Linked DNA regions of Homo sapiens: region 2 is linked to region 1. A link means that fine-mapping ties the variant in region 1 to the expression of a gene that starts in the linked region. Tissue or cell type: whole blood. Region 1 holds a variant in brackets; the other region holds the start of a gene. Each region is shown on its reference strand, or each on the opposite one.

Region 1 (9,094 bases):
ACAATTCAAGATGAGATTTGAGTGGGGATACAACCAAACCATATCAGGTGGGATCCTGGCCAACCTGAGGAGACAGGGAGGGAGTGCATGGCCCAAGATGGAACCCTGCATGAATGAGAGTCAGGAGCCATCAGGGTGGTTTGCACGGGGAAGAGGGGCTAGGCCTGGTGTGGTGAGGAGGAATGCAGGCCATAGGCATAGGGCTCCAGCAGGGCCAGGCTCAGAGTGGTGGCAGCAGTGGGCATGGAGGCTGGGAAAGAGCGAGAAGTTCTCCAGAAATCAAAGTGGCAGCACTACTGTGGGAAAGTGGTGCATCCAAGGGACATCATCGTACAAGAGTCAGCAGGCATGGGGTCCTGAGGGAGAAATCAAAGAATCAGGCTCAGTGGCCTGGTGGCTGGAGGATGATAGTCCCACAGAAATGGGAAAAAGTTGGAAAGGGCTGGCTTGGTATGGAAGTTGACTGGTTTGGATTGGATGTACAGAGTTCAAGGTAACTTGAAGTGGGTGCTATGTCTATGATAACGAAAAGTATCATAGTGGAGTCCAGTGCACAGGCAGTGAGAAGTATGAACACAGGGTCACCACAGAGAGGAGAGAGCTGTCAGTGAGAATCCAGTAGCTCTCTAAGGAAGCAAGTGTTTCAATTTCCCTGACCTGCACTAAGTAAGATTCTAAGTTACAGCATAAACCTTTACCAAATAAAATAGCCACCTTAAAAAGGTGATCTAAAGAAAACCTAGCACCTGAATTTGTAGATTATTCTTTAGCCATCCTCAGACAGTAGTCAGAGATCAATATGTTATCACACCAAATCAGATCACAGCAAAAGTCCAAAACTGAGGACGGAGTTGAGGGAGAGAGGTCTTGCCTCCAGGGTCTTTCCCAGGCAGGTGTATTCTGAATGAGTGACAGCAAAAGCATTCGTGTAAACTTAACACAGCTTGGGCCCTTATCTCAATGTACAAGTTTCTGCTGAGCCACTTTTATAGGCAAAGTTAATTTTTAAAAAAGATTAAATTGATGATTCTATGTAATTAACACTGGTTTCTGCCAATTGAAGACTGGGTGGGTATATGCATTGGAGAGCATGTGGAAGGCAACATTGATCTCTCTATGGATCCCAAGTATGTCTTGACTGGATAGAGCAAAATTTAAACTTGGAAGAAATAATCAGCACCAGATACAACTGATAGCAGTCAAGATGGCATGGAGTAATTTAGTCAGAGATGAAAGCAGTCTAAGGAATTCTATTTTAGAGTAACATTGAAAACTACAAACAACCTACCCAGACAATATTTTCTTGATGAAAATTCATCATTGCTGATATAGTTCTCTTTAAAATATCTGTATTTGTAGACATGACATCCAGGCATGCTTGAGGTCAAATCATTGGAATCAGACTGTCCCTCAGCCTTGAGGCTGAGTTTAGCTCTGCCCACCTTTGTGGGATCTGCGGGAGTTGGGATGGGACCAGAGGGCAATCAATGTCTTTATTGGCTGGATGGGTGGGCTTGGGATGTTCAGTTGGAGGACTGAGTTTTGCTCTACTCAAAGACAAGAGGCAGAACTCTTCCCAGCAGAGAGCAATGAAAGGTCATAGAGGGTAAAGAGTGAACGCAGCTTTGAGTATAGCAATCAAAGGCTAAACTAGTTGGGTTAACTTAGTAAAAGCCTTAATGCGTGTCAAATAAGTGGTTTTAAATCTGAGGGTGGCAGAGAATTGTGGGAGCATTTTCAAGCATGAAACAATGTAGTCAACACAGCCTACAGGAGGGCAGTCTGTGACTTACACCAAAATAAAAATTGGTCACCACATAAGTGAGCCTTTGATGAGAACCTGGCCATAAATATGAGAAGGGGAATGTAATTTTGTAAATTTTCTAGATTAATATTCCTAGAGCTTTCATGGCCAATTTCAATGGATTACTAAAACTTTTTTTTTTTCTCGTAAATCTTCTTGGGTTTCTCTTCCCTATTCTCCTTGAGAAGGTTGGTTGGAGAAAGACGACTTTATATATTTGGGGGAGTTTGTGGGGTTTGAGTCAACACTTGGGGCCATACACCAAGAGAAGAGTTAAAGCCATGGAAATCATGATGGAAGATTGAGATTTTTTAAATTAGCACTGTCAAATTTACAAAGGCAGGTGGAGTCTTCTCAATGAAGGTCCCAGGAAATGGAGATAGAGTGTCATCTCTGGGGACAAGATGACCCAAAAGGAAGCTGAACCCAGGACCTCCTGGCAGTTTAGGGAGGAGCTTTGCTGATGGGAATGGCCTTGTACTCTACTGTAATGACTCTGTCTGATGGGGTGGAGAAGTCACTGTACGGGGGCCCCTGACCCATGCAGGGGACAGTTGGGGAGCTCTGCCATGTCACCAAGGAAGGACGGACAGCATGCTGTTTACGTCTGTTATAACCACAGTGTCCTCCTTCACATCAGAAGGGCTCTGAGGCGGAAGTGAAGTCATTCACAATTTCCATTTCTTCCCTTCCAGTTACCTTAGAGCAGTTCTCCCTAGCAGTGAAGAGCTGTCCTGACCAAGAGGACCAGACTTTGTTAATGAAGGTAGGTTATCAGATAAAGAACTTATTTCCTAAAGGCTCAGAGCGTTTTTATTGCCCTGAGGAGAGTTTCATTTTTACAAGCGGGAGTAAATTTATCATGTCTGAATCGTGTGCTCCAGGGGGATAAGCTTGTCATAGGCGAATTGGAGGGTTGCTGGTTAACGAGCACCACTGCTGCCTGCGGAGTGCGGGAAAGTGACAGGAGAGTGGGTGTCCACATGAGTGGGGAATCTGTTTAACTCTCCAGAGGGCTCAGTTGGTTCTATTTAAACTTATCTGATGGAGTCTTGATGCTTTTTTAGCAGATTTATGAGGCTTGGCCAAATTCCACATCTCCCACTATATTTTTAATTAAGACAAAGGATTCCATACGTTCCCAGTCTGCTGCTTCCTACTTTTGGCACCTTAAGGAATGCTACACAAATTAGACTGTTCATATTCACCACCAGAATGAGCATCTTATGTCATAGATTCCTTGCCCTTGAGTGGAAGACAAGCTTCTTCCCCCCAACCCCCCGCCCCAAGGAACAGTTGTTTTATTTCCTTCCAAGTGACAGGAGCAGAGGCATTTCCAAATGGTATAACCTGCACTTAGGCTGCCTACCTAGGTGAGCCAAAAGTGTGGAAAACCCTGGCAAGCTGCCCACCTGGATTTAATTAAAACTTTGTCTTTGAAGCAGAGAGCAGTAAACAGCAGCAGATCACAAAGGTGCACACACATACTTTCCCACCACTAAGACTCATGCTTTCACACAGAAACCTTGCAGACTGACCTTGAGGTACAAATATTTCCATGATGTCACTTCAGTGCT[G/A]TACCACCAGGAAACCGCGTGCACCAGGAATTGCATTTCTTTATCTAAAAACCAGCTTCTTTACCAGGTGTCCTCTGACTTTAGAAATGGGTGGAAAAAAAATAGGGTGTCACTCTGAGGGATTTTCAACTCATTTGCCTAAGATGTGATATTTTTGGTCTTTAAAAAAAAAAAAGCTTTCAGTGATGTTAGTTTTATAATAAAGAAGCGCTGCTCATACCAAGTGTTGGGTTTGTCTGGGAACCCTGATTTTTCAGAGTCCTGGGCGTCTGATACACTGACTTAGAATGATATAGATTCAGGCACATGGGCGTTTCTTGTTTGCCACGCTTAATTCTCTGTTTCCTGCTTTAAGTTCTATTCTGCAAGGACCTTTCCTTCCAGGTGCAGGCTGGCTTTCCATGACCTTGAAGCAGCTCTTGGGCCCTGGATGCTCACCTCTTTTCTCTGCTCACCGGCCTTTGGTCTTTCTTCCCTCTATCCTGTGTTTTCTCCTACCATTTGCTTCTTGCTTCTCTCTTGTTCTTCTCCTACTGTCCATCTCTCCCCATTTGCAGGAGGTGAAGCTCCTGGGCTCCCCTGGAGGTTACATGGGCATCTCAGAGGCATTTTGGGGTACAGAGGGCAGCGACAGAGCCCAGCCCCAGAGACCACACCTCCAGGCCTGCTTCTAGTGGTCCTCATGGCCTCCCCGACTTGGGATGCCGCAGCCCCCTCTGAGTTTCTTCACATCTAGAGTGAGAGGTGAAAAGAGATGTAACCAAAGGCCCCTCCTCCTCTCACCATTTCACCTTCTTGCTGACTTTCATGGTGCTCTGGCTGGCTTCTCTAGCACATTCGGTTAGAAACTAACAGATTGGGGTTGGGAGAGGAAGGCTAAGATGGCCTGAGGTTTCCTGGAATTTGCGTGACCTCCAGTGGCGTTCAGTATTTTGTGTCTTACCTGTTGGTTTCTGCAGACTGTGTGGCCTCAGCAACAGAGGATGATTTATGTGGGCGTTTTCTCAATATTTGCAAATATTTGAACAGGCATCATCAAAGAAAGAAGTTTCACTGAACAAAAACGTGTGCCGAGTTCATATATACTGAAACTATTTTATGATTTTTTTTAGGAGATTGAGGTTTTCTAATGTCACATATCAGAAGGCACCATGTGGGTGTGACAATGGTATGCTGGGTTTTTGTAGATGTTATGTGAGAAAACCTATTCAGGGTGACAGTAGATTATTTTGACTACAGTCAGCCTGCAGGTGATTGTATGTTTGCTCTAGTGAGCTATCCACTTTGCAGACTGTCTGAAATAAATTCCCACATTTAACTTAACCTCATGAAAACTTGTTGGAGGCAAAAAACGTAGATCTGGGCCAAATATGATATATATTTTTTTGAGACAGAGTCTTCTTCTGTCACCCAGGCTGGAGTGCAGTGGCGTGATCTTAGCTCACTGCAACTTCCACCTCCTGGGTTCAAGGAATTCTCCTGTCTCAGCCTCCCCACTAGTTGGGAGTACAGGTGTCTGCCACCATGCCTGGCTAATTTTTTGTATTTTTAGTAGAGATGGGGTTTCACCATATTGGTCAGGCTGGTCTTGAACTCCTGACCTCAGGTGATCCACCCGCCTCGGCCTCCCAAAGTGCTGGGATTACAGACATACGCCACTGCGCCCAGCTGATATTTTTTAAAATTATATTTTGCATGCATTCCTGCATTGTCAAACATTCCAATGTTGCATTCTACATTGTCAAGGGTAATTGAGATCTGAGCACAAATATTTAAAGGGGTACCATTAAAAATGCAGCTTGTATGGCAGGCATGGTCCATGATTGTCCCAGGCAGCCTAATTTTGACTCAAGTCAAAAGCCCCTCCCTCAATCACATAGCTCCACCTTGCCTAACCTGAGAAGATGCTCTATAGACAGACTGCCAAGAAGATGCAAGAGATGAACTTGGTTCATCAGATGGCTGAACCAAGGTCAGATTCCCCTGCAAAGACAAAAACATTGAGATTTTGAAGATGGCATAAGCCAGAACATTCATCTGACAACCAGGAAAAGCAGGAGGGACAGGAAAACAAGTGACTAGCCACCATTGCATAGCTAGTCAGCCGGCAATAGAACTAGGACCAGAAAGCTGGGCTTCTTCCTGCGGGGCCCACTCAGATGAGCAAATTCATAGAAAATTCCACCACTCCACCCCTTCAGCACCATGAGAGCACACACGGGAGGTGTGACTGCAGTGGAACCATGAGGGGTACTGTGGTGGCAGGCTTCTGGAGTCACTCTCAAGGCTTGTTAATCACATCCTTGTTGCTGGGGGTCCTGTAAGACAGGAGAAAGCCAGCTTCTCTGTGACTCAGTTTCCCATCTACCAAGCAGAGGTGGAAGCTGTTACTGGCTTAAGTAACAGACCCTGCAGACCCGAGAAGGGGGCTAGGGAAACGGTACCCAAGGGTAAGATAGCTGTTATCAGGAGTTGCCTCTCAGATTTCACTACAATTTGAACCATAGAACAATATTTAGATTCCATAAATTACTCATTTGACCCTGTTCGCGTTTGATCTCCATACCTACCTGTTTCTTCACTGATTCTTAGTCCTATTTGCCAATTAATCTCTTTGGTCCCTCTCGGTCACTACCTTGGAGAGCCCATTTGCCCTTGGCTCCACCTGCACTCGCCTGTGACTCCAGGTGTCACCTGAGCTCACGTCCAAGCAAGCTCAGCAAGTCTAAACCCCACCAGTTTCTGTCCTCCCACCCCCCCAATCTAGGAACTGTGGGGTAGTCTGTGGCACTTCCCTGTCCCGGAGCTGCCATGGAAGTTTCCATGTGTCTGTTCATCCTCTGCAGCCTCTTTCAGGGTCCTCCATCTCCCTCTGTCCCAGCAAAGAGTACCTGGACCTGACCCCTTAAGGACAAGTTTCTATCCCCACTCTGCCAGCAACTGGAGTGTAACCTTGAGCAGGTCACTTTTATCTCTTTTAGCCTAACGTCCTCTTCCAGTAAAAGAGGAGGTAAATTAGACCACCCCAAAGACCCTTCCAGCATCACACTCTGCAAAGTCATAAGTGAAAATTATCGACAAGGCTGCAATTCTAAATATGCTTGAGAATGAACCAACCTGGCCTTCTACCACTCGTCTCTCTCCTCCAGGCGCTGCCAAGTGAACTTGCTTGGAGCCCCACGTCCTACATGTCACTCTGTGGATGCATTTCTAGCCTAACTCCTTCTCATCTTTGGAATAGGGTAATCACAAAACTTATCATCCAAACATGGATTTTGTGTGTGTGTGTGAGTGAAAGGGGCACCATTAAAAATAGAACTTGGATGGCAGGCATAGTCCATGACTGTCCCAGGCAAACCAGGGCATTGGGTCAGCCTAGATTTGAATCAAGGCCAAAGCCTCTCCCTCAATCACATGGTTTGACTTTGCCTAGCAGGCCTCTTTCTCAGTGCTTGGTCCAGACCCTCCCTGTCCCCACTCCCACTAGGATTGTCCCCTCTTAAAAATCAGAGCCTCTGTTTAGGGTGGAAGTTGGCAGGAAGACAGATCTCCTGGTGACAGTCTGCACTCGCACCATCATTTACTGAATGTAAATGATCACACCTCCTCATTTTGTTCTTGCACACCTGGGAGTTTCTTACATATCTGGCAGCAGCTGCCTCCAATTTGGGTGGGAGATAGCCCCAGCCAGGGGCCTCCATGGGACTAAAACTTCCTGAAGCCATCGCCTGCAGAGCCTCCCTGCCTCCCTCGGATAAGCTGGAAAATATTTAAATAGAATGGTCAGAGGAAAGTGGCCCTTGCTGGTAAATGCTTCTGACCAGGTCAGGAGACAAGAGCTAGTATTGAAGGAGCTTTGGCTGATGGGTTATACCTGGAACAAGACAGTAGAACAAGGGTTGGCTCAGAGCAAGCCTTCCCTGCTCTAGTGATGTTGAGTGAGTGCCTGGAACATTCCCCATGCTACAGTCCCAGCTATGGCCTGGCTCGGTCACCTTGCCAAAGGTACCTGGCTAGAAGCACCATGGGAGGCTCAAGGCAGGCCTGTCTATAGGTGGATCTGATATCTACCACATTTATGGCAGCACACAGTAGAAAAACCAAGCTGCCTGTAGGAAAATAAAGCTTGGCTTATTTATAGCACTGCCTTGAATCTCTGCTCCTAAGTTGCAACCTTTGGCAGGGCTGTCACGCACCAGCAGCAACCATGCTCCCTCTTGTTCTAGGTGGAGGGCTGGCTGAGGTGGGCAGGCTGCTGGTGGTGCAACAGATGATACCTTGATCTAAGCAGACATGTAGAACAGTATTCATAGCTGCTGTCTACCCAGTGGGACATGCAGGGGCCCATCAGGGTCGGTGGGTACAGCTGCCAAGAGCTGCAGCCCAGGTTGAGCAAGCCTGCAGAGACAGCTCCCCAGGAAGGCTCCACTGATGGGAGGTGTGGGGGCTGAATGCTGCTGGAAGCTTCCTTAGGATTTCTTACCAGCCAAGTATGAATGCTGCCCCCAAATGCACAGAGACGCCTGGGAGCGTGTGGAAGGAGGGACGCCAGGCCTCCCTCCACGTCCCCTGCCACCATGGTCTGGCCAGATGCAACCCTTTCTCTGTCTAATTACATTTTAAGAAGTCAGACACATTTGAATCCTCCTGGCAACCAAAAATCTCCAAGAGATCGACATGACTCAACCCTTCAGTCCTCCATGCTTACTGAATACAACTTCTTCCCAGGCGAAGGCATTTTCCCCTAGCCTGATGGAATCCTGTCCAGAATGAGGGTTTTCACAAGAAAAACAATGCCTTTCCCTCAGCTTGGGAATGACTGTGCATGGAGGAGAAAGGGAATTTTCCACATGACTGCTCCACTGCTTCACCTCCCCACAGAAGGTTTAGAAGCACCTCAGCAAGCTGGTTGTCTAATGTTTCTTAAATTGTCATTGTCATAAAGATTCTTTCTGCTTCACTTCTTCCAAAGTTCTCCTCCTCACCCACCCCCAACCTTGGTCCAAGGCATAGTAATTGAGCCATTCAGTATCCAGCATGGGGACTGGTCCTGCAGGACCAGGCAGGTGCCTTTGTCTGCCTTTGTGCTCAGAGAAGGCCTTCACGCCTTTGGTTCTCGTAAGGTGCTCGCCACGGCAACCCAAGTGTCTAAGCAGGGCATTTGCAGGGGACTGTCCCCACCTCACAGGCGGCTAGCAGCAGCAGTTTGAGCCTGTCAAGTGGGTGAGGTGGGGTTTTTCCCTCTTTCCTGCATTCTAACTGCTTTTTCTTCCTTTTCTCAACCTGTGTAGGTGGTAGCTAGTTTAAGCACCAAACCTAGCAGCCAATAATTAACTACACACACCTTCCATCATGCACAGTGCAAACCATGATGTCCTTCCTTCTGCAGGTGGCTCTTGCCATGCCCAAGGACCTCATCTTGGCCCCATGCCATTGAGAGAGTCCTAAGCTCCGACCAGCAAGGGCTTCCCTCTGCCTCTCAAGTGGAGGCACTCAGGGGCTGCCCGTTGTGGCCACACACCCTGTGAATGCATCACATGTACCCACATCACCATTCAGTCATCTGGGGCTGGGAATGGGATTGGGCCTCCACATGGAAAAAAGGGGATTCTTTTCTGGGGTATGACTGCATTTCCAAACCCAGTCCAGGATCAGTAGTGTCAGTCCTTGTTCTGAATTCCCATAACACAGCTGATAAAGAGTGGCAGAGTTC
Region 2 (9,094 bases), not on the chromosome of region 1:
TATTATTAATGTTTGACATCTTGGGAATTTTTGTCTATTTTGTTTATTACTTATCCAGGGCCTAGAAGTGACCTGGTACAGGGTAGGTGTGCAATAATTCATTTATCTTTTTTAAAATCTGTTGAATAAATGAATTATTAATCCTGATGAAAGCAATATTTTAAAAGTAACTATAATCAAGTTTTTTCCTACATGTATTGATTTTATAAACAAATGGCTGGGCCGGGTGCAGTGGCTCACGTCTATAATCCCAGCACTTTAGGAGGCCAAGGTGGGTGGATTACCTGATGTCAGGAGTTTGAGACCAGCCTGGCCAACATAGTGAAACCCCATCTCTACTAAAATACAAGAAAATTTAGCTGGGCGTGGTGGCAGACGCCTGTAATCCCAGCTACTGGGGAGGCTGAGGCAGGACAATCACTTGAACCTGGGAGGCGGAGGTCACAGTGAGCTGAGATCACGCCATTGCACTCCAGCCTGGGCAAAAAGAGTGAAACTCTGTCTCAAAATAAATAAATCAATAAAAATAAAATAAATAAATTGCTGGACATTAAAAATTATTTTATATAAATCTTTTAATTAGAGAAAATATTACAGTGGACTTCTACAAAAGCTTTCATGGTCAAAACCCACACAAATCAGCATGATATGCTCCTCAAAAACATACACATGAAAGAATAAGCCTGTGCTGGTGAGAATGGAAAATCTTGAGGTTTCCTGAAGCCGGTAGACTTAAATCCCTAAAGCTAAGGGTATGGTTTGTTTCAGTGAACTAATAACTGTCTGGCAGCAAGGCTGAGGCTGCTTGCCACCCCCATGACACTCTGAGGCTCACTAGTTTTATATTTCCATTTCTGGACGAAGCATTATCATTTGATTTCATGGTTCTTAGTACAGGATCAGGCAGCTTGTGGGAACTCAAAACATAAAAGATGAATAGAGGAACATATTAATTATTTGGGAGAGTCTCCTGCATTTGAGGTTGTCGTAATCACAGCAGATGCTTTCTGACAATGACATGTTAGTATGCTGTGAAGACTTCAGTGGCTGCTCCAGCTTTTCCTCTTCCCAAGACTCTCTGGCTTTTAGGGCCAGTCTAGTGTAGGCAAAACTGGGTTAATCTGAGTAGAAGGCAAGTACACTTTTGGCTGAGATCCAGGTACCTTCCTCTCTCACCCAATGTGGGCCTGAACAAACTCAACCGCTGGCCTGAATCACTGATAAAGGACTAGACATATCTAGAAGTAGGAGGAACAAGTGGCCTCACAGGTCCTGGATTAATATAACGAATTGATGAGTCCAAAAAGATATAGCATTGCAAGCAAATTCTTTGTAGGACTATACTAATGACATTTGACTTAATTCTAAGTGGAGAAAAGTTTGGGCAGGCATGTAAACATATGTGAATCACATAGCTGTGTGACACCTGTGAAATTCTTAAATATTTCATATATTTTAATGTGGTCATTGGGGAAAAGCCTCACATAAACTATTGGTCAAATGGCACATGCGGATTCAGCAACTCTAAGTTTTAAACCCATTTGTTCTTTTAATACTCTGGAAAATTTTTTTAAACCGGCTTTATTGAGATAAAACTCACCATACAATTTACCTACTTAAAGTACACAATTCAGTGGTTTTTAGTATATTTACAGTATTGCAACCATCATGACAGTCAATTTTAGACCATTTGCATCACCCCAAGAAGACACACTGTACCCTTTAGTCACTCCCGTTTTCTCCCTAATCTTACCTTCTTTTTTTTTTTTTTTGAGACGGAGTCTCGCTCTGTCGCCCAGGCTGGAGTGCAGTGGCGGGATCTCGGCTCACTGCAAGCTCCGCCTCCCGGGTTCACGCCATTCTCCTGCCTCAGCCTCCCAAGTAGCTGGGACTACAGGCGCCCGCCACTACGCCCGGCTAATTTTTTGTATTTTTAGTAGAGACGGGGTTTCACCGTTTTAGCCGGGATGGTCTCGATCTCCTGACCTCGTGATCCGCCCGCCTCGGCCTCCCAAAGTGCTGGGATTACAGGCGTGAGCCACCGCGCCCGGCCCCTAATCTTACCTTCTACTGCAGCCTCAGGAAACAACTAATCTACTTTCTCTATAGATTTGCCTATTGTGGATATGTTATGTAAATAAATCATATAGTATGTGGTCTTCTTTCACTTAACGTAATCTCTTCAATGTTCATCCATGTTGTAGTATGTATCAGCCACATGATTTTCATTGCTGAATAATATTTTATCATTTCATTCCATACTACATTTTATTTATCCATTCATCATTCAATAAACAACTTGGGTTGTTTCAATCAGCTTCTTTGGGTGTTATGAGTAATGCCACTATGAACATTTGTGTACAGTTCTTGAACGGACATAAGTTTTCAATTCTCTTGAATATATGCCTAGGAGTGGAATTGCTTGATTATGTGGTAACTCTATTCTCAACTTTTTGAGGAACGATCAAACTCTCTTCTATAGCGATTGCACCATTTTCCATCCCCACCAGCAATACCAGCAATATATGACAGTTCAATTTTCTCTACATCTTCTCTAACACTTGCTATTATCTCTTTCTTTCTTTCTTTCTCTTTCTTTTTCTTCTTTCTTTCTTTTCTTTCTTTCTTTCTTTCTTTCTTTCTCTTTCTTTCTTTCTTTCTTTCTTTCTTTCTTTCTTTCTCTTTCTTTCTCTCTCTGTCTCTCTTTCTTTCCTTTTTTTTTTTTTTTTTTTTTTTTTGTGATAGCCATTCCGGTTGGTGTGAAGTGGGATTGTACTGTGGTTTTGATTTGATTTTCATTTCCCCAACCACTAATGGCTAGTAAACACCTTCTCATGTGTAAATTGGCTGTTTCTACCTGCTCTTTGGAGAAATGTCTATTCAAATTTTTTTGTCCACTTTTAAATGAGTTGTGTTCTTGTTGTTGAGTTCTTCATTTTCTGTCTTAAGAGTGGAGGATGGTTGGAGGAAGAGAGCCTCAGAACTCTCAGTTGCTCTTATCTAGAATAGAGCTCTGAAACACAAAGCTGGGGATGATGAGTAATGCTGGTGGCCTGCTTCTCTCAGGGTATACTGTAGACGAGGATCTAGGTTGAGAGGGGGCCCTGCGTTAGTGGCTGCACCCATCCTTACTGGAACATCATCACACTCAACTGGAGAGGGTGGGGAAATATATTGTGGTTCAAGCATCACAATTGTTTGCAGTTCTTACTGAAATATAAGAGATTGTCTTGAATAAATATTTTCTTCGTGCTGTATGTCCTTAGGACAATTACCAGGAACTTTAAATGGTTATTTATCTATAATTTTCACCAGTTATTGTTGTTTTTAGGGAGTGGATTTGAAAAGCTCTTCACATCACCATTCTGGAAGTGAGTCCCATTTGGATCATTTTTTATGAATATTTTGTTTCTTTTATACTTGGTGGTAAGATAGTGGCAAAACTCTCTTTATAATTAGCATAGTAGAGATAGAATTGCTGTACAATTATAAAGGGCAGTTTTTATAAAAGTATTTGCAAATTTACAGTGAATTAAGAAAACCAATGAGAGTTGAGGACTGGTTGATTTTCAACTTCAAATCGACTTTCAACTTCAAATCTAGTCGAATTCTAGAATGACCATGCTTTGTTTTGACAAATAATTTTTAATTTATTATCATTAAATAGTTGTAAATAAATATCTGGATAATGAGAGTGACAGTACATTTCATACTACAGCTTGTTGGTTTTGGTCTAGTTATCTATGTACAAAGCCTTCACAGCCCTTGAGAAAGTCACCGAAATGACCTGTTTTAAACAGCATAGGAATAATTCAGATGTGGAAATCAAGTTATTAAAAATTCAACACTTTTATGTATACATTTTAGAATTTCACTAGCAAAAATTACCATGTCTTTCTTAATTTTTGTCTAATTCAAAATAAGTACTGCACCACAAAATCTTTTTGAAAAACAATTTTCCCAACTCCCCTGATGCAGTTATTTGGACTTTGGGGCTAGTTCTTACATTTAACAATTCTTCAAACTCCTTATGTGATTGTGGACTGGGCTCATATGTGAATTGCCAACCAGTTGAATGTCACTTTAGTTGAAACAAATCTGGAGTCCAACTCATATTTAAAATGCTACTCTAAACATTTCCCCACCTTCTTCATCCCCATGGCAAAGTTAACTATTTAGCTAACTCTAGCTGGCTGTCTTTTGGTGAAGAAGTTTGGTTACTTATAAAGGATGACTTAAGTATCTTTGAGAAAATACATACTGCTTAATACTTACAAGAGAATGTTAAAATGTATTCCTTGTTGGAAATTCTTCACTTTTTGGCAGGTGACTTGTGTGTACTATTGCCTAAAGTACAGTAGTTTAAGTAGCTTATGGGCAGAGAGGGATTGTATAGGAGCACGGAACTAGGTAAAGATGAATATTTAAGAAGGAAACCAAGCACAACCCAATGATATTTTCCTGAGTCGTTAATGGACTACACGAAGGTAAATAGTGAAAATAGTAAAGAAATTTTCTCTTCTTTTAGTTTGGAAAGTTTCAGTGTTAAAGTTTGGCTTCTACTGAGTGAAACATCTTAGTTTCCCACATAGTGAAAGGTAAATGGAAAAATCCATCAATTCTGAAAATTGTAATGCAGTTAAATAATAAACTGATAAATTGCATTAAAGCTCAGTATTAATTTTTTCCTCCTATAGAGACAGGAATTCTATCCTACTAAAGCTACTTAACAGTTCAAGTAGGTATTTTGGAAGATGCTTACCTCCCAGTTGGGTGTATCTCCCTGCGGCTTAGGTGAGCGCCGAGGCTTTGGCTCCTCCCCAGCTGCTGCGAGCTTCCCACTGCGCCGGGCGCCTGGGAGCCTCCCGGAGTTAGGTGTTCGGCCCCGCCCTCAGGACTCTTGCTAAAACTCAAATTCTACCTGGCTAATTCCGGTGATTAATTATTGACAAAAGGAAAACACTCCTACGCAAACTTGTGTCCAACCGCACTGCTCCCAGCGACTCCTTCCAGAAGAGAATGCCTGCTGCAACACTCCCCTCCCCCCCTTGCTCTATGGTCCCAACTTCTCATACGCTGCCACTCTTAGTCCTGGGCGATCAGACTGGTCCTCGGAGGAATGCAGCCCAACGACTTCTACATTTTAAAATCTGGTTTTCTGCAGCTCGTTCGCAGTTCTCCAGGGACCAGCCTCTCGAGAGGGGGCGCTTTCCCGGTGCAGGGGAAGCCGGGGCTCCGAGAGCAACAGAGGCGGCTGAGGCGTCGCTGTCACCTCCGGCTGCTGCAGTAAAACCCCGAGCCGAGGCGGGGACGGGGAGGAGGGGATAGGGAGGCGCCCTCCCCCGCTCTGGGGCTGGGATCCCCGACTCTACTGAAGGGGCACGTCCTTTGGCGGTGGTAGAGGGGCGGGCGGATAAACAGGAGGTAGAAGGTGGGAGCTCTGGGGCTTTAGCCTAAGCTGCGTTAAAGCGCTCAGGGAAAGCCCGCGCCCAGCATCCATCGGGCTGCAGACTTTGGCAAGGGGGCGAAGAAGCCCGGGTGTAAGCGCAGCAGGACTGCGTCTGAAACTCGGCATCAGGCTGCTAAGTGAGCCCAGGGCTCGGGCTGGGGCAGCGGGCGGCCAAGCAAGCATCCCACCCCATTTATTTGTCAAAAACCGAAGAAAGCAAAGCCTTTTAGCACTGGCAGCTAATTTTGGTGCCTCTGAACGTGTGAAACGCCCCTCCCCGCCCCACTCGCATCCTGCCACCTTGCCCGCGGTAGCTAGGAGGTTAATCGTTAAAAAGGTGGACTCCCCCAGGGAAATAGATGAAAGGATCGTGCCCGGAGAACTTGTGTGTGCCCACTCACAAGTGCAGAGAATTAATCTCGGCCCGGACTGCGGCAGGAGGGCAAACTGGGGAAAGAAGGCTGGGAGGCGGCCCGGTGGTGCAGAGACGCGCGGCGCCTGCTCCCGCGGCTCCCGGGGCTGGCGTGCCCTGCGCTTACGCTCCGCGCTCGAATATCTTCCCCGGAGGGCTCGGGACCAGCGCGAGCACCTTCCCTGGAAGCCCACATCCATCACCCAGCGATCTCCTCTCCATCGAGAGCAGGGCTTGCTGAGAGTGGCGGAGGACCTTGAAGGCTCCCGGTTCTGTATCTCCGTGGCCGAGACGCTTTCTGCTCGAGGCCCAGGGGAGTCCGGGAGCGAAAGCCTCTTTTGATGAATGAGCATTTGGGCAGTATCTGCCCATCAGCCCCCACTGCCGAAGGAGGAGACACTGCACATGCTCGGCCAGGGCTGATTGTGTTAAAGCGCGAATTTTAGCTGCTGGCAGGTCTCTGCTCATCCTCACAACGCGCTTTCAGCGGGTTCCACACTGCCAGGGCTATTACGAAGAGGGAGGCTCACGTTATTGGGCGGTGGTGTCTCCATGCAGGAGGGAGGATGTCCCCAGAGGAAGCTAAAGGTAGATGGGGGCAGGGAAGGGAACCAATAGAAACAGAGCACCTGCTTGGGCCCGTGTTAGCCATTTTACGTAGTTATCATTTCCTTCTGCTCCCGTGTCTAAATAGCAGCAACCACTGCTAGTGTTATTTATTTCTTTATCACTTTATGTTGGTCACATTCCTTATCTTTTGGCTTCTCGCGACACACCTTGCAATATTGGCAGGGTAGATATGACCACTCAGGGCATGTAGATCAGGAAATAGAAACCCTAAGAAAGGACTTGGCGGGGACTACCAAGGCCATGTTGGTGAGGCCAATTCTATTTACACTGGTAAATCTTATTTTTCATTATCTATTTACCCCCACTTAGTTGTGACACTCCACCCTCCATACTGTGATTGCACATTTGTGGAAATATAGAAATAGACCTTCTTGGCAAAGGTTTGTGAAATGGATATGAGACCTTGCAACTACTCCAACTGGAGGTTGGGGGAAACTGGCACAGCTGGCAGATGTATTCAGACCATTAAAAATAATCTTAAATAACATACACGTATTATAACCACACACAGGAACATCTTTATGAATATCTTAGCACCTCCAAACGGAGAATACATATTAACATGTTTTCCATACAACTATAGAACATTCTCGAAACTTAACTAGATCACAAACTATAGGTCAACACTTTTATTTTTATTTTTATTTTGGAGACAGGGTCTCACTCTGTCGCCCAGGTTGGAGCGGAGAGGCACAGTCACAGCTCACTGCAGTCTCAGCCTCCTGGGCTCAAGTGATCCTCCCGCCTCAGCCTCCTGTGTAGGTGAGACTACAGGCACGTGCCAGTACACCCAGCTATTTTTTAAATTCCTTAGAGAAGGGGTCTCATTTTGATGTCCAGGCTTAGGTCAACACATTTTAAAAGGCAGAAGTCATACAGACCACATCATCCATCAAAATACAATAAGGATAAAATTAACAACAAACATTTACCCTGATTGATATACTATTGGAAATTTAAAGATGCTTTGAATCTGTATTAAAAAGCACAAATGGGAAAATTACAAACTCTTTAGGAACAGAAGAAAAACAAAAACCCTACATAACAAAATTGAGAGAATACAGAAAAGCCAAACAATCTATGAAATTACACACTAAGTGTCTTTATTGCAAAACAATGTACAAGGAGACTTAGAAAAAATTGTGAAAGAATTATGTTAACTAATAAAGATAACAGCAGAAAATAATAAAGTAGGAAAGTAAAAAACAAAAACAAAAATGAAAAAGGAGACTTGATCAAGAAAAGAAAAAAATATTCTCTGGAAAGATCAAGAAATAAATCTAGAAAAGATCAGGAAGCAGAGAAGATACAGATAACATTAGGAAAGAAAGGTGGCATACAACCACAGATAAGGAAGATATTAAAAAATTTAAAAAGCACCTCAATTGATATTTTTTTGTGCATGAGATGGCATCTTCTTTTGTTCTGATTACTGGAACTTGTGAGATAATAATTAGTTAGCACTACAGCTTGTGCAGAGGTGAATGAAATTTGAAGAACCAGGCAGAATTGTTAAGAATATAATAGTGTAAGAACATAAAGTAATGATAATTGTATCAACTGATCATTTTGAACCAGGCCTTTCATCATCAGTATCCTAAAGTTTCTATCGCATAACTAAAAAACACACTGCTGGAGTAGAAAACTTTCAAAAGTAATCATCACTAGTGTGTATTCCCCTAGGTAACCTGAGATGTTTGGAGACAGATATTATTGGGAAAGGAATGGGTCCACTTTGTAAAACTGTGTTTAGGTTTTTTTGGGATGTCTCTGGAGTCTACAATATCAGGAAGAAGAAAGGAGTTGATGGGAGAATCCACTTAAAATGACCCATAGTCAGCTACCCAATCTTTCATGCATTTGCTGAGAGTAATCTTACTTTTAGCAGATGAAAATTCAAGGATAAAATGTGAGTTTTTCTAAAGCTTCCAAACCTGACCATGGTGAAAAGAATATGGACTTTGAAGAAAAACAGCTCTGGATTCAAGTCCTAGCTCTTTCTACTAATCAGTTCTGTAGTCTGAGACAATTAGCTGTATCAGTATACTTGGTTTTCCCAATTATAAAGTAGGAATAATATTGACTTCATAGGGTTCTTTTGAAAATTAAATGAAATGTCATTTACAAAGTACTCATCATATGGTTCCTGCTGAACCCCGAACCCCATTCTGCCTTTCTTTATTGCCATCTTTTAGTAACTTCTCTTCTGGCTATTCACATTCCTTCCATTTTGTCACTGGGATGTTACCCCTTCTTCCCTTCCTTTCAGTAAACCATGCGCCTACTCCATGACTTACCAGCAATCAGAGAAATCCAAGTATCATTACTGAGTACCCTTGGGTTGCTTTGGAAAGATCCTCTTAAATCTAAAAATAACTTAGCCCCTTTTCTACAAGGTGTAAATGGCAAAAATGAGGCCTGCTTCTTCTTTCTTTCCTTCCTTCCTGCCTGCTCCCCCCTTTATTTTTGCTTACCACATTTTTTTTGAGTTCCTATGAAACTATGCATGAGCTACATTCCCCAACTCACTGATTCCTGTTTAACAAGTATGCATACGCTTAGACTGAAGTCTTTCACTGGGGAAAGACCCTAATCTTGAAACA

Evidence for each region. PIP is the estimated chance that this variant, and not a neighbour inherited with it, causes the effect. A credible set is the group of variants that fine-mapping cannot tell apart.
Region 2: SPTSSB starts here. The variant in region 1 is the best candidate, but not a certain one, in a credible set for the expression of SPTSSB in whole blood (TOPMed, PIP 0.70).

The regions. Positions count from the first base shown.
Region 1 is chr2:111,046,719-111,055,812 of GRCh38, forward strand. It overlaps ACOXL (acyl-CoA oxidase like), which reads left to right. Exons shown (of 18, transcript NM_001142807.4): 16 at 2,500-2,570. It overlaps LOC124907866 (a long non-coding RNA gene), which reads right to left and starts at 3,459. Exons shown (of 2, transcript XR_007087182.1): 1 at 3,343-3,459. RefSeq lists an enhancer at 3,134-3,428 and a silencer at 3,134-3,428. The variant G/A (reference allele first, on the strand shown) is at 3,382.
Region 2 is chr3:161,366,673-161,375,766 of GRCh38, forward strand. It overlaps SPTSSB (serine palmitoyltransferase small subunit B), which reads right to left and starts at 4,845. Exons shown (of 3, transcript NM_001040100.2): 1 at 4,763-4,845. RefSeq lists enhancers at 4,318-4,872, 4,873-5,427.